3 separate regions of the Homo sapiens genome follow, and all the other regions are linked to region 2. The links come from fine-mapping of genetic effects on gene expression. A gene starts in region 2. Each other region holds a variant in brackets. All regions are shown on one strand. Distances are from middle to middle.

Region 1 (5,639 bases), 27 kb before region 2:
CAAGTTATTTTACTTAGGATAATGGCCTCCAGTTCCATCCATGTTGCTGCACAAGACATGAATTCATTCTTTTTATGGCTGAGTAGTATTCCGTTGGCTGTATATATACCACATTTTATTTATCCAATCATACATTGGTGGACACTTAAGTTGATTCTATGACTTGGCTATTGTGAATAGTGCTGTGATAAACGTATTAGTTCAGGTGTCTTTTGTGTAATGATTTCTTTTCTTTGGGGTATATACCCACTAGTGGGATTGCTGGATTGAATGGTAGTCCTACTTTTAGTTCTTTGGGAAATCTCCATACTGTTTTCCATAGAGACTGAATTAATTTGCGTTCCCACCAACAGCACATAAGCAGTCCCTTTTCTCTGCATCCTCACCAACATCTGTTGTTGTTTTTTTTTTTTTTATTTCTTTAAAATAACCATTCTGACTGGTGTAAGATGGTATCTCATCGTGGTTTTAATTTGCATTTATCTGATGATTACACCAGTCAGAATGGTTTATTATTAAAGAAATAAAAAAATATGTTGGTGAGGATGTAGAGAAATTTTTGAGCAATTTTTCATGTTTGTTGACTGCTTCTAAAGACTGTTTGTTTGTTTTTTTTTTTGAGACTGAGTCTCGCTCTATCACCCAGGCTGGAGTGCAGTGGCACAATCTCGGCTCACTGCAAGCTCCGCCTCCTGGGTTCACGCCATTCTCCTTCCTCAGCCTCCTGAGTAGCTGGGACTACAGGCACCCACCACTATGCCCAGCTGAATTTTTGTATTTTTAGTAGAGACAGGGTTTCACCGTGTTAGCCAGGATGGTCTCAGTCTCCTGACCTCGTGATCCACCACTGTTTTAATTCAATCAGGAGTTAATGTGTCTCCTCCCTAAAAGAATGGGTCACCATGATCACTCTGTGCTAACCTGAGGCACAAGGGTTTACTCTATCTCTCTGCTGCCCCATCTTTAATGTGTTGTTTTCCAAGATATATCAGCTAAGGGAATTCCAGTGTCATGTGCAAATCCCAGGCAAGAAAGAGATGAACAGAGGGGAAGGATTCTAAAGAGGATTCCAGGATTCCCATCAAATAAATTCCTATGCTTCAACTCTCCATGATTTTGCAATAGAGAGTGGAAAATATAGTATCTTAGCTGGACACATGACCACTTCCAAATATAATTGAGTTCTATTAATAACAAAAAAAGAATGGATATATTGGGTAGGCAATCTCTGGCACAATGATCAATTACAAGATTAGCAGGATCCATAACATTAAAACAAAAAAGTGCTTAATAGAAGCATGGCCATCCCTACATGAACAGACACTTCTCAAAAGGAGACATTTATGCGGCCAACAAACATGAAAAAAAGCTCAACATCACTGATCATTAGAGAAATGCAAATCAAAACCACAATGAGATACCATCTCATGCCAGTCAGAATGGCAATTATTAAAAAGTTAAGAAATAACAGATGCTGGCAAGACTGTGGAGAAATAGGAATGTTTTTACACTGTTGGTGGTAACCTATATTAGTTCAACCATTGTGGAAGACAATGTGGCAATTCCTCAAGGATCTAGAACCAGAAATACCATTTGGCCCAGCAATCCCATTACTGGGTATATACCTAAAGGAATATAATTCATCCTATTATAAATATACATCCACACATATGTTTATTGCAGCACTATTCACAATATCAAAGACATGGAATCAACCCAAATGCCCATCGATGATAGACTGGATAAACAAAATTTTGTGCATATACACCACAGAATACTACGCAGCCATAAAAAGGGACAAGACCATGTCCTTTGCAGGGACATGGATGAAGCTGGAAGCCATCATCCTCAGCAAACTAACACAGGAATGGAAAACCAAACACCTCATGTTCTCACTCATAAGTGGGATCTGAACAATGAGAATGCATGGACACAGGGAGGGGAACAACACATACTGACGCCTGTCAGTGGGAGTTGGCAGAGGGAGCGCATCAGGATAAATAGCTAATGCATGCAGGGCTGAATACCTAGGTGATGGGTTGACAGGTGCAGCAAACCACCATGGCACACATTTACCTGTGTAACAAATCTGCATGTCCTGTACATGTATCCTGGAACTTAAAATAAAACTTAGCAACATGGCCATTCCTGACATGAAGGCATAAAATACATTAATGACTGTTTCTCTTAAAGCAGTCACATTGTGTGATGGAAGGAGCAATGTTTCCAGCCAATTCCCTTGAAGGAATCCAAAAACACATTTTTAGATTCTTGAAATGTTCCTTAATGTAGGCTAAAGACCTCACACACAGTAACAGCCACACAGCAGTAGAGGGGAGCCAAGGACACTAGGTATTGCCCAGGTATTCAGGAGCCCTGAAAAAAATAGCAGTAAACCTTGTCTTGAGTTAAAGCACATCTCATTGAGTGACAAGAACATTTAGACTCTAAATAGTACAGACTTATTGTATAATACCATCATAGTTAGAGGACAATTTTCTGTATTATTAACATTAATTTGGTGTCTCCAATTAACAAGTCACCATCTGGTCTTACTTTGATGTCCAAATTACATTTTTGGATTGACTCATATCAGTATATGTCCCAGAACTGTTGTAATTTTTAGATAGCAGTCTTATATAAATGGGATAATAAAAATAGCTGGTCCCTCTCAAAGTTTGTGACTTAAAAATGTTATTACTAGATCCCTAATGGATGGTCACATGTGGAAGGTAGAAAAAGAAAACCCAATGAAGCTGGTCATTCAGATTATTTTTTGTCACACAGAAATAATTTCCCAGGCCGGGCATGGTGGCTCACGCCTATAATCCCAGCACTTTGGGAGGCCGAGAAAAGTGGATCGCTTGAGGTCAGGAGTTCGAGACCAGCCTGGGCACATGGCAAAACTCTGTCTCTACTAAAAATACAAAACAAGGCCGGCTGTGGTGGCACATGCCTTTTATCCCAGCTACTCAGGAGGCTGAGGCAGGAGAATCACTTGAACCCAGTAGGCGGAGGTTGCAGTGAGCTGTGATCATACCACTGCACTCCAGCCTGGGTGACAGAGTGAGATTCTGTCTAAAAAAAAAAAAAAAAAAAAAAAAA[AAAT/T]TATTTTCCTGTTTCTTGGGTCCTGCCTCAGTGGACCATCATGGGAGACATGAAGATGCTCCAGGGATGGTCCTAGATTACAGAAGGCACCAGGGTCTCAATGAGCCTTGAATCAATGTGCATCTCATTCCCCTTGAGTGTGAGGAAGCTCTAGCCCCAAGAACTCTCAGATTTTTTTTTGCAGGCAGGAGGAGTACAGACTGGGGACCTTCTTTGGGCATTCTGCAGCGTAGTGATCAAAGCTGAACAAGAAATGTTCCTTCTAACCCCCGTGCTTGTGAATTCAAACATTGAGGCCATATACATAGCAGAGGAATTTAATAGGAATTCAATAGGCAATCAAACTTCCTATCTATCTAGATCCACTAGCTTCTGGGTGTGACGGTGCATTCTTGTAGTCTCAGCTACTTTGGAGGCTGACATGTGAGGATTGCTTGAGCCCAGGAGGTCAAGGCTACAGTGAGTCATGATTGCACCACTGCACTCCAGCCTGGGCAACAAAACAAGACCTTGTCTCAAAAAAAAATTATTGAGATGAAATTAATATAACATAAATTAACCAGTTACTTGAAAGCAAGCAATTGAGTGCCATTCACTACATTCTGTGTTTTGCGCAACCACCATCTCTATCTAGTTTCAAAACATTTCCATTACTCCTAAATAAAACCACTTACACATTACAGTAGCACTTTATCCTCATCCCCTACCCCCGCTCCCCAGTCCCTGCGACTCGTTATCCTGCGACTCGTTTATGTATTGTGGCTATTTCATGTAAATGAGATTGCATGTAAACGAAGAAGCCCAGGCATTGAGCCTCAGTAAAGGCTTCCTTGGGGTCAGGTTCTACTAATTAATTATTCTTTCCTTTGCTATACTTTCTTGTTTCATTGCATGTCTCATAATATTTCATTACAACTAAATATTTTGAATATTATAGTGTGGCGACTCTGGAAATCAAATTTTCTCTCCTCCTTGGGGTTTATGGTTGCTGCTTTTTGTAATTTGCAGTTGTTTACTTGCCTAATGAGTCTTCTAATTTTATAAAGATTGCATATTTGTCCAGTGTGTGGTTGCTGAAGTCTCTAGGCTGTTAGCTTAATGGCCAGAGAGTGATTTGATAAGAGATTTCCTTAAACAGTGGAGCCCAAAACCAAAATCTCCCAACCTTTGCAGTTTGGCTCTGTATGTGCTTTCAGACAGGCCTTTACCACTCAGCTGAGCATTTTTCAACTCCAGCCTTTGCCTTAACTTCCTACTTGCACAGAGCTTGAATATCAGCTACAGGTGAGAGGTCAGGGCCTTCTAGATGTTTACTTAGCATGCAATCCTGGGTAGGACACCTATGTATCCTACATTCCCAGGAATCTTTCTGATATAGGAGTTAAAAAGAAATATTTAGGCCAGGCACGGTGGTTCACGCCTGTAATCCCAGCACTTTCGGAGGCCGAGGCAGGTGGATCACGAGATCAGGAGATCAAGACCATCATGGCTAACACGGTGAAACCCCGTCTCTACTAAAAATACAAAAAATTAGCTGGGCTTTGTGGCACGCGCCTGTAGTCCCAGCTACTCAGGAGGCTGAGGCAGGAGAATCACTTGAACCCAGGAGGCAGAGGTTGAAGTGAGCCGAGATCGCGCCACTGCACTCCAGCCTGGGCGACACAGCGACACTCCGTCTCAAAAAAAAAAAATTATTATTATTATTATTATTTAGGTAGATAGGGAGGGTAAGGAAGTCCTTGGTAAGGTTTCCCTTTTAATAAAAAGCAGCCCCCAAATAATTTCTTTTCTAACAAAAAGCAGCCTGTAAAATCAAGCTGCAGATATAGATAATCAAGCTGGAACCCTGCACGGGTGAATGCTGGCAGCTGTGACAAATAGGAAAAGGCTGTCTGGGAGCCAGGCATGTTCAACATGGTGACTCCATCTTCCCTTTTCCTTGCAAACCACGTGTACAGTAAGGAGAAGACAACATGGCAGCGACCCGCAAAGACCCCATCTGCATAATAGAAGATTAGGATGGAGCAGCCAGCTTCCTCCGGACTATGTAAACGTCACACCTGGTCCAACCAATCTTTTCTTTTTTTTTTTTTTTTTTTGGAGACATAGTCTCCCTCTATCACCCAGGCTGGAGTGCAGTGGTGTGATCTCGGCTCACTGCAACCTCCATCTCCCAGTTTCAAGTGACTCTTGTGCCTCAGGCTCCCAAGTAGCTGGGATTACAGATGCGCACCACCACACCCAGCTAATTTTTGTATTTTTAGTAGAGACGGGGTTTCACCATGTTGGCCAGGCTGGTCTTGAACTCCTGACCTCAGGTGATCCACCTGCCTCAGCCTCCCAAAGTGCTGAGATTACAGGCGTGAGCCACGACGCCTGGCCCCAACCAATCTTTGGGCCCTATTTAAATCAAACACTGCCTCCTCAAGCCAGTCTATAAAATCCAGTGTACTTTGCTGCCAGCAGGAAGTCCCACTCAGGCACGTTCTCCTTTCTCTTTCTTTTGCCTATTAAACCTCTGCTTCTAAACC
Region 2 (5,596 bases):
TGTAATCCCAGCTTCTAGGGAGGCTGAGGCAGGAGAATTGCTTGAAGCTGGGAGGCGGAGGTTGCAGTGAGCCGAGATCTCGCCACTGCACTCTAGCCTGGGTAACAGGGCAAGATTCCGTCCCCCTCACACACACACAAAAAAAGTGAAAAGTTAGCCAGGCATGGCAACATATGCCTGTAGTCCCAGCTACTTGGTAGGCTGAGGCAGGAGGATCACATAAGCCCAGGACGTGCAGGTTGCCTGAAGCCATAATTGTGCCACCGCCACTGTGCTCCAGCGTGGGCAACAGAGACCCTGTCTCTAAAATAATAACAATAAATTATACTAATATAATTAATAATACCATTATTATTGTTGGTTGGATAATCTTGGGTTGCTTCTTTTTTTTTTTTTTTTTTTTTTGAAACGGAGTCTGGCTCTATCGCCCAGGCTGGAGTGCAATAACGCGATCTCAGCTCACTGCAACCTACATCTCCTGGGCTCAAGCAATTCTCCTGCTTCAGCCTCCCAAGCAGCTGGGATTACAGGTAATCTTGGGTTACTTCTTAGCTGAGCAACCTGGGGCCAGGGGCCCCAAACCCCCAGGTTCCAGTTCCCCTTTTGACAAATGAGGACCATGTTCGCACCCCCCATCATTGCAGAGGTTGTCCAGAAGCTGCAAAATAGGTCAGCAGGACTGAGACTTCTGGACAAAGAGAAGGCGGAGAAACATAGGCAGACACCCCGGCAGGGACCAGATCAGCGAGGCTGAAGGAGGCTTCCTTTAGCTGGGCGGCAGCGGAGTGGAGTGGCAGGAGTACTACTAATTTGCATGGTTTACCATATAGGGCCCCACTCAGCACAGGCTCTGTGCTGGTGCTCTGCAGAGAAAAAGACAAAAGTCACTCAGGGGGCTGACAGCCTAATGCGGCTCGAGGGCAGATGGTTGCTAGGGAAGAAGGGAGATGGTGAGAAGTATTGGAGAGACTCAAGAAAGCCGCCAGGAATGGTGACTCACGCCTGTAATCCCAACGCTTTGGGAGGCTGAGGCGCGTGGATCATTTGAGGACAGGAGTTCGAGACCAGCCTGGCCAACATGGTGAAACCCTGTCTCCACTAAAAATACAAAAATTATCTAGATGCGATGGCAGGTGCCTATAATCCCAGCTACTCGGGAGGCTGAGGCAGGAGAATTGCTTGAACCCGGGAGGCAGAGATTGCAGTGAGACGAGATAGCACCACTGCACTCCGGCTTGGGTGACAGAGCAAGACTTCGTCTCAGAAAAAAGTAATAATAAATAATAATAATAATAATAAAATAAAAATTTAAAAAGAATGTTTCAGGCCGGGCATTGTGGTTCACGCCTGTAATCCCAGCACTTTTGGGATGCCAAGGCAGGCAGATCACTTGAGGCCAGAAGTTCGAGACCAGCCTGACCAACATAGCGAAACTCCATCTCTGCTAGAAATACAAAAATTAGCCAGGCGTGGTGGCTTGCACCTGTAATTCCAGATACTTGGGAGGCTGAGGCAGGAGAATCTCTTGAACCCAGGAGGCAGAGGTTGCTGTGAGCTGAGATCACATCACCACACTCCAGCCTGGGTGACAGAGCGAGACTCTGTCTCAAAATAAATAAATGAATGAACAAATAAATAAAATAAAATAAAAATACAAAAATTAGCCAGGTGTGGTGGTGGGCACCTGTAGTCCGAGCTACTCTGGAGGCTGAGGCAGGAGAATCGCTTGAACCCGGGAGGCGGAGGTTGCAGTGAGTCGAGATGGCGCCACTGTACTCCAACCTGGGCAACACCAGAGTCTGTCTCTAAAATACAGTAAAATAAAATTAAATTAAGAAGAGTCGATGATCACCATGAAGGGGTGTAGGGACAATCCCTGGCATCAGGAAGTGCCACTACCTCCCTGAGATTCTGCAGACGCCAGCTGTCTGACCTGCCCGTCTGATCTGCAGAGAAGGGACGTTGAGCCCTGGGGTTCTAGCTGGAGTTTCTGGCTTTCTGAGAAAAAAAAGGCAAAATCCCTCCAGACCTGGTCTGGCCCTCTCTCCTTCCAGCTTCTGCTGGTGTTCACTCCCCTCCCCCACAGCCCAGGCCACCCCCACAGGAGCCCGGGACAGGAAGGGGTAAATTCTAGGACTGTGGATGTTTGATTATTCCCAGGACAATAGTTCTCTGACTTCAGTCATTAGTGACTTTTTTCTCCATCGCTGCAATCTCCCCCTTTGAACAACTGAACTATATTTTCCTTAGCATTCATCACTTCTGCATCTTGAATTTACTCATGTAACAAGGAGACTTGATTTCGGCATCCTCACTGAAAAACCCTCCTCATTGCCCCAGATAGTAGGGAAACCTAAAAATAAATATAAATATGAGGAACACAAAACCAAGTCCTTGAATTCTGGCTGGATACAGACACCTGCTAAGCCTCAGGGTCACGGAGGCGCTAAAGACATGTTAGTGCCCAGTGGAGACTTTCCCCTGGGCTCATCGCAGGGACTCCAGGGCTGGGCTGCCGGCCTGTGGATCTGAGTCTCAGCTGGGTGAGTCACTTGTGCCTCAGTTTCCTCCTCTGTCAAATGGGAATGACAACATCATTGCAGATGTTTTAAGGAGTAAATGAGTTAATATAGATTAAAAAAAAAAAGCACTTAGGACCAGACCTGGTACAAATTAAGTGCTCCATAAATAATAGCATTTTCTTGGCAGGATAGCGAGATCTCGTCTCTACAAAAAAAAAAAACACTTAAGGAGAAAACTAGCCAGACGTGATGGTGCACAGCTGTAGTCCCAGCTCCTCAGGAGGCTGAGGCAGGAGGATCCCTTGAGCCCTGAAGTTTGAGGCTGCAGTGAGCTGTGATGGTGACCCTGCACTCCAGCCTGGGTGACAGAGTAAGATCTCTTAAAAATATATATAGCGTTTTAAAAAATGATTACGTACCTCAAGAGACAAGCTAATCATATGATTTATCCAGAAAGGAAAGAACCCTCCTATCACATGATTCTCTGTTGATTAACGAAGTGCCCAGGGGCCTCTGAAATATAAGTTTCCCACAGGAGGAAACTGGCTTAGAAAGACCAGAAAGATCCGGGGGGTCTGCTCTGTGCGGTGAAGCTTCTCTTCTTGGCACCTGCCTGGCATCGGAAGAGGGCCCCTTCTCCCTCCCTGGGCTTTTATGTGGACACTGTAATGCCTCAGTTTTCTTTCTTTCTTTTTGTTTTTGACACAGGGTCTCACTCTATCACCCAAGCTGGAGTGCAGTGGCACCATCTTAGCTCACCGCAGCCTCAAACTCCCCAGCTCGGGTGATTCTTCCTGCCTCAGCCTCCTGAGTAGTAGCAGCTGGGACCACAGACGTCTGCCACCAAGCCCAGGTAATTTTTTTTCTTTTTGAAGAAACAGAGCTTTGCCATGTTGCCCAGGCTGGTCTCAAACTCCTGAGCTCAAGCGATCCTCCTGCCTCGGCCTCCCAGAGTGCTGGGATCACAGGTGTGGAGAAATAGGAACGCTTTTACACTGTTGGTGGGAATGTAAATTAGTTCAACCATTGTGGAAGATAGTGTGGTGATTTCTCAAGGATCCAGAACTAGAAATACCATTTGACTCAGCGATCCCATTGCTGGGTATATACCCAAAGGATTATAAATCATGCTACTATAAAGACATATGCACATGTATGTTTATTGCGGTACTATTCACAATAGCAAAGACCTGGAATCAACCCAAATGTCCATCAATGATAGACTGGATTAAGAAAGTGTGGCACATATACACCAGGGAATACTATGCAGCTATAAAAAAGGATGAGTTCATGTCCTTTGCAGGGACACAGATGAAGCTGAAAACCATCATTCTCAGCAAACTAACACAGAAACAGAAAACCAAACACCACATGTTCTCACTCATAGGTGGGAACTGAGCAATGAGAACACCTGGACACAGGGCGGGAAACATCACACACTGGGGCCTGTCGGGGGGTGGGGGCCTGGGGGAGGGATTGCATTAGGAGAAATACCTAATGTAAATGACGAGTTGATAGGTGCAGCAAGCCAACATGGCACATGTATGCCTATGTATCAAACCTGCTCGTTGTGCACATGTACCCTAGAACTTAAAGTCTAAAAAATTTAATTAATTAATTAATTAATTAATTTAAAAAGAAAGAAAGAAACCGAGCTTCGCCATGTTGCCCAGGCTGGTCTCAAACTCCTGAGCTCAAGCGATCCTCCTGCCTCGCCCTCCCAGAGTGCTGGGATCACAGGCGTGAGCCTCTGTACCTGGCCTCAGTTTCCTCATCTGGAAAACAGCAGGGGAAGATACTGCCAGCTGGGACGCAGGCTCTGCCAACTCTGGCATGCCAAAGCTCTGGGCACAGGGTGAGCCCTACCAAAGTGGGAGCCCAGAGCTATTTCTGACAAGGCCCCTGCGTGCCTGCCCAGGGAAGAGCCAAGTGGCCCCAGGCGAGACCGCCCCGCCCGGCTGCCACACCTTCCCCTGCACAGCAGCCAGCCTGGAACACACAGAGGCCAGAGGGTTGGTCAGAGCCACATGGTGGAAACTCCAGCAGAGGGATTTTTAAAGCAGGTTGCACTTCATTCTTGCTGAGCGAGTACACGTGTGTGTGTGTGTGTGTGTGTGTGTGTGTGTGTGTGTGCAGCGCCCCTGGTTCTGTGTTTTTATTGTGCTTTCCTGCTGGCTTCCAGCTGCACCGCCAGTTCCGGGGAGGGCCCTGGGCCAGCGGCTGTCCGCCCCCCCTCCTTTATAAAGTCCTGGCCTCGGGACAGCCCGCACAGCTGCCCAGCCTGCGGAGACGGGACAGCCCTGTCCCACTCACTCTTTCCCCTGCTGCTCCTGCCGGCAGCTCAGCTGGAACCATGGGAGGCCGCGTCTTTCTCGTCTTTCTCGGTAAGTACTTTGGGGCCCCGCTGGGGGTGGTAGCGAGGAAGCTCCAGCGGGACCCCTTGGATGCGTCTGAGAAACGGGAGGCGCCGCTGGTGTCTGTGGGGCCGGCGATGGAGAAAGCCACATGGTCAAGCAGGCACTCACGGGCACACGGCGAGAGGGGCTGGTGGTGCTTGGGCACCCCCACACCCCGGCAGGAACTCCAGGGTGCTCTCGGAGCCTGCTACCCTGCCCGGAGGGATCCTCAAGCTTTCTACTGGAGCCAGTTTGGCATCTGCTCCATAAGAGGGGAAACTGAGGCACGGGGGAAGGAAAGGGGCAAAAAGTGAGTGCTAGGACCCCAGAGCCACTGCTCTTAATATAGCGCATAGAAAGACATGGGCGGGGGGCGGGGAAAATAGAGGCCAGGACTTCTCCACTGCAGGGTACCCCCAGCTTCTCCCTTCTTTCTCTCTCTCTCTCTGTCTTTCTCCTTCTGTCTCTCTTTCAGTCTCTCTATCTCCCTAATCTCCGTTTTCTCTCTACCTCTGCCTCTTTGTCTCTCTCTCTGGTGAACAACAAGGAGATCCCTAGGTCCCCATCTCTAAAGCCCCTGGTGACCTGAGGAGGGTCCCCCAGGACATGCCTTGGAAAGGGGAACTTCCTGAGTGCTGGGAACCGCAGCGCCACATGCACCCCAACAGGCGGCCACAG
Region 3 (5,000 bases), 22 kb after region 2:
CTAACTGTATGTCTCTACCTGTTAACTCACCTCTCTTCATCCCAGTGATACAGGAGTGAAAAAGAAATTATTTAGGCAGTTAGCAAGGGTCAGAGAGTCCTCAGTAAGGTTTCCCTTTTAATAAAAACCAGCCCCCAAATCATTTCTTTTCTAATAACGAGCAGCCTGAAAATTCGAGCTGCAGACATAGAAAAGCAAGCTGGAAGCTTGCACGGGTGAATGCCGGCAGCTGTGCCAATAGGAAAAGGTTACCTGGGGGCCCGACATGTTCAACGTGGGGGCTCCCTCTTCCTTTATCTTTGTCAACCACGTGTACAGTACAGAAGCAGGCAACGTGGAGCCAGCCAGGTAGAGAATCCATTTGCATAATAAAAGATTAGGCTGGGGCAGCCAGTTTCTTCATGCTGTATGTAAATGGCTCACCTGTTCAGACCAATCTTTAAGCCTTATGTAAATCGGACACCGCCTACCCAAGCTCATCTATAAAACTTCGTGCATTTCACCACGCAACCGGAAGACCCACTTGGGAGCCCCTGTCTCTCTGCAGGAGAGGGAGTTATTCTCTTTTTCCTTTTTTTTTTTTTGAGACGGAGTCGTGCTGTGTCCCGCAGACTGCAGTGCAGGGGCGCGATCTCGGCTCACTGCAAGCTCCGCCTCCCGGGGTCACGCCATTCTCCTGCCTCAGCCTCCGGAGTAGCTGGGACTACAGGCGCCCACCACCATGCCCAGCTAATTTTTTTGTATTTTTAGTAGAGACGGGGTTTCACCGTGTTATCCAGGTTGGTCTCGATCTCCTGACCTCGTGATCCTCCCGCCTCAGCCTCCCAAAGTGCTGGGATTACAGGCGTGAGCCACTGCGCCCAGCCAGAGCTATTCTTTTTTTCTTTCGCCTATTAAATCTCCACTCTTAAACTAACTTCTTATGTGTCCACATCCTCAATTTCCCTGGTGTGAAACAGTGAAACTTGGGTATTTACACCACTTCACTAGTGAGATGATACCTCATTGTGGTTTTGATTTGCCCTTCCCTGATAACTAATGATGTTTAACATCTTTTCATGTGTTTGCTCACCATTTGCATGTCATTTTTGGAGAAATGTCTATTCAAATCCTTTGCCTATTTTTAATTGTGCTGTTTGTCTTTTGGTTGTCCAGTTGTAAGCATTCTTTAAACATTCTGATAGTAGATCATCTGAGATGAATGATTTGCAAAATATTTTCTCCCGTTCTGTAGATTGTCTTTTCATTTTCTTGTCTTTTCACTTTAATGAATAGAAGTTTTAAATCTTGAAGACATTTATTTTATCTAATTTTTCTTTTGTTGCATGTGCAATTGGTGTCATATTTAAGAATTCATTGACAGGGGGTGGTGGCTCACGCCTGTAATCCCAGCACTTTGGAAGGCCAATGTGGGCGGATCACCTGAGGTCAGGAGTTTGAGACCAGCCTGGCCAACAAGGCGAAACCCTGTCCTTACTAAAAATAAAAATAAAAATAATTAACCAGATGTGTTGGCACATGACTGTAATCCTAGCTACTCAGGAGGCTGAGGCAGGAGAATTGCTTGAACCTGGGACACGGAGGTTGCAGTGAGCTGAGATTGTGCCACTACACTCCAGCCTGGATGACAGAGCAAGACTCTGTCCCAAAAATAAAAATAAAAAAAGAATTCATTACCGCATCCAAGACCAGGAAGATTTACCCCTGTTTCCTCCTAAGTGTTCTAGTTTTAGCTTCTAAGCTTAGGTCACTGGCTTATTTTGAGTTAATTTTTGTTTGTTGTGTGAGGGTAGGGTTAAAACTTCCTTATTTTCATGTTACTATCCAGTAATCCCAGCACTATTTGTTGAAGAGATTATTCTTTCCCCCATTGTATAGTCTTGGCACCCCTTGTTGAGAATCAACTGACCATAAGATGGATGGGTTTATTCCTGGACTCTCAATTCTATTCTGTTGTGTCCTTATGCCAGTATTACTGTCAGTTTGTAGTAAGTTTTGGAATCAGGTAGTGTGAATTCTCCAACCTTCTTGTTCTTCTTCAAGATTGTTTTTGGGTATTTGGATTCCTTACAACACCATATGAATTTTAAGATGAACTTTTCTTATTCTGCAAAGTAATAATAGGCTAAAATATTGATAGGGATTGCATTGAGTCTCTAGACCACTTTGGGGGAGTATTGTTATCTTAACAATAGAAAGTCTTCCAATCCATGAACATAGGCTGTCTTTCCATTTAGAGAGGGCCTTTTATTTCTTTCAAACACTTTTGTAGGCC[A/G]GAAGCAGTGGCTCACGCCCAATATTGTCAGAGGCCACCAAGGTGGGAGAATTGCTTGAGCCCAGGAGTTCAAGCCCAGCCTTGGAAATATACTGAAACATGATCTCCACAAAAAATTTAAAAATTAGCTGGCTGTGGTAGTGAGCACCTGTAGTGCCAGCTACTTGGGAGGCTGAGGTGGAAGGATTGGTTGAGCCCAGGAGACTGCAGTGAGCTATGATCATGCCACTGCACTCTAGCCTGACCAACAGGTGAGAATTTGTCTCAAAAAAAAAAAAATACTCAAAAAACTTTCCTATAAGTCTTGAGTCTCCTTCGTAAAATGTATTCCTAACATTTTTGCTGAAAATTTTTGCATCTATGTCCATAAGAAATATTGGTCTATAATTTTATTTTCTTGTGATGTCTTCATCTGGTTTTGTTATCAGAGCAATATTAGACTCATAAAATTACTTAAATAGTGTTTCCTCCTCTTCCATATTTTTAAAAAGGTAAAAGATTCATGTTCATTCTTTCTTAAGCTATTGGTAGAACTCACCAGTGAAGTCATCTGGTCTGGGCTGTTAGTTTTGAGAGGTTTTGATTACTGATTTAATCTGTTATAGGTCTGTTCAGATCTTCTATTTCTTCTTGAGTTGATTTCAGTGGTTTGTGTGTCACTAGGAATGTGTCCATTTCATCTAGGTTACCTACTTTGTAGATATACAGTTGCTCACACTATTCTCTTCCGATATTTTGTAACTTCAGACTATATATGTATATAGTATATATATTAAGTCATAGTATATCAACCACTGCAGGCACGATTCCTAACCTAACCCCCCTTATGTAATTCCCACAACTCATAGAATTGTCCCTGGAGGTGCAGAAGCAAGTAGACAGGAGTGTCACCTTGAGACAGAATCAGGCAGTGATGCAGCTCGACTGGAATCAGGCACAGAAATCTGGTGACCCAGGTAATGGCTGAGATGGGGAGGTGGTCAGTGAAGCTTCATGGTGGGAAAAGATGCCCAAGAATGTGAAAAATAAGAAATTTAAAGATTAAAGGGAAGTGTGGGATGTTTGGAGTGGGGCTGTAAGAGGAGAGTCCAGCTGAGGAGGAACGGACCTTGTTGGGGACCCTGAGATATTAACCGTGGCCTTGTCCTGCAGGATGTGATACACATAGAACTAAAGATTGAAGGAAAGTGTGGGAGGGGTGAAGCCAAAGGAAGGTAGCCCATCTGAGTAGAAAGTTCTGTGCAGGGCAGAGGAACTCTGGTGTGGACCCAGAGATTCAACCTACTCCAAGATTCAACCTTGGCCTCGCCCTGCAGGCCCTTCTGTGGTGGGCCTTGTCTCCATTCCAGGGATGGGCAAGTTGCTGGCTGAGGCCCCTCTGGTCCTGGAACCTGAGAAGCAGATGCTTCTGCATGAGACACACCAGGGCTTGCTGCAGGACGGCTCCCCCATCCTGCTCTCAGATGTGATCTCTGCCTTTCTGAGCAACAACGACACCCAAAACCTCAGCTCCCCAGTTACCTTCACCTTCTCCCACCGTGTGAGTGCTGGTGGAGTTGGTTGGTGGGTGAATAGTCTGAGTCCGGGCATAGCCTTGCTGCTCAGCTCAGCCCTGGGGCTCAGGGGTCTCTGTTATGGGTACATTATCTCCCCAGGAAAGTCAGTCCTTCCCAAGCCGGCTTTGGGTAAGCATTTCTGAGCATCCGACCCACCAGCTCACACCTGTGTTCTTTTTTTTATTGAGACAGAGTCTCGCTGTGTCAGCCAGGCTGGAGTGCAGTGGCACGATCTCAGCTCACTGCAGTCTCCGCCTCCCAGGTTCGAGCGATTCTCCTGCCTCAGCCTCCCTAATAGCTGGGACTACAGGTGTGTGCTACCACGCCCAGCTAATTTTTGTATTTTTTTTTTTTTTTTTTTTTTTTAGTAGAGATGGGGTTTCACCATGTTGGCCAGGCTGGTCTCAAACTCCTGACCTCAAGTGATCCACCTGCTTCAGCCTCCCAAAGTGCTGGGATTACAGGCGTGAGCCACCATGCCCAGCCCACACCTGTGTTCTGTTCCTGCAGTCAGTGATCCCGAGACAGAAGGTGCTCTGTGTCTTCTGGGAGCATGGCCAGAATGGATGTGGTCACTGGGCCACCACAGGCTGCAGCACAATAGGCACCAGAGACACCAGCACCATCTGCCGTTGCACCCACCTGAGCAGCTTTGCCGTCCTCATGGCCCACTACGATGTGCAGGTGAGACCCTTAGGAGGGGATGCACTCTGCATTTATTGCCGTGTAACAAATCCCCAGAGACGTAGCAGCCTTTTAAAAAAATATATGCATTATCTCACAGCTCTGGGTCAGCAAGCTGGCATAGCAAGATGGCTTTTCTGCTCAGGGTCTTACAAGACTGAAATCATCATGTCACCCCACCCCCAGGGCTGCCATTTCATCTGAGACTTGAGGTCCTTCTCCAAGCTCCCTGGTTGCTGGCAGAATTCAGTTTCTTGTGATTGTAGGACTGAAGTCTCACTTTCTTAGCTGTCAGGAAGGCATCACATTCAGTTCCTAGAGGCCACTCATATCCCTTCTCACATGACCCTCTGGCAAACTTCTAGCATTCCTATCTGGAGGACAAGGAAAAAAATTTCCTCACGCAGAATCCCTCTTAAGCTTTGTATTAGTCGAGGTTCTCTAGAGGGACAGAACTAATGGAATAGATAGATAGATAGATAGAT

What was found. PIP is the estimated chance that this variant, and not a neighbour inherited with it, causes the effect. A credible set is the group of variants that fine-mapping cannot tell apart.
Region 1: its variant is the best candidate, but not a certain one, in a credible set for the expression of ADGRE2 in whole blood (INTERVAL, PIP 0.68).
Region 3: its variant is the best candidate, but not a certain one, in a credible set for the expression of ADGRE2 in whole blood (TOPMed, PIP 0.75).

The regions. Positions count from the first base shown.
Region 1 is chr19:14,802,876-14,808,514 of GRCh38, reverse strand. The region is part of intron 2 of OR7C1 (olfactory receptor family 7 subfamily C member 1); the gene reads left to right. Among named protein-coding and RNA genes, the nearest start is that of ADGRE2, 27 kb to the right of the region's middle. The variant AAAT/T (reference allele first, on the strand shown) is at 3,106.
Region 2 is chr19:14,776,036-14,781,631 of GRCh38, reverse strand. It overlaps ADGRE2 (adhesion G protein-coupled receptor E2), which reads left to right and starts at 3,072. Exons shown (of 21, transcript NM_013447.4): 1 at 3,072-3,375; 2 at 4,705-4,906. The coding sequence starts at 4,876. RefSeq lists an enhancer at 5,536-5,595.
Region 3 is chr19:14,754,469-14,759,468 of GRCh38, reverse strand. ADGRE2 (adhesion G protein-coupled receptor E2) reads left to right here. Exons shown (of 21, transcript NM_013447.4): 12 at 3,124-3,231; 13 at 3,592-3,815; 14 at 4,342-4,515. Among named protein-coding and RNA genes, the nearest start is that of ADGRE2, 22 kb to the left of the region's middle. RefSeq lists enhancers at 1-232, 233-756. The variant A/G (reference allele first, on the strand shown) is at 2,276.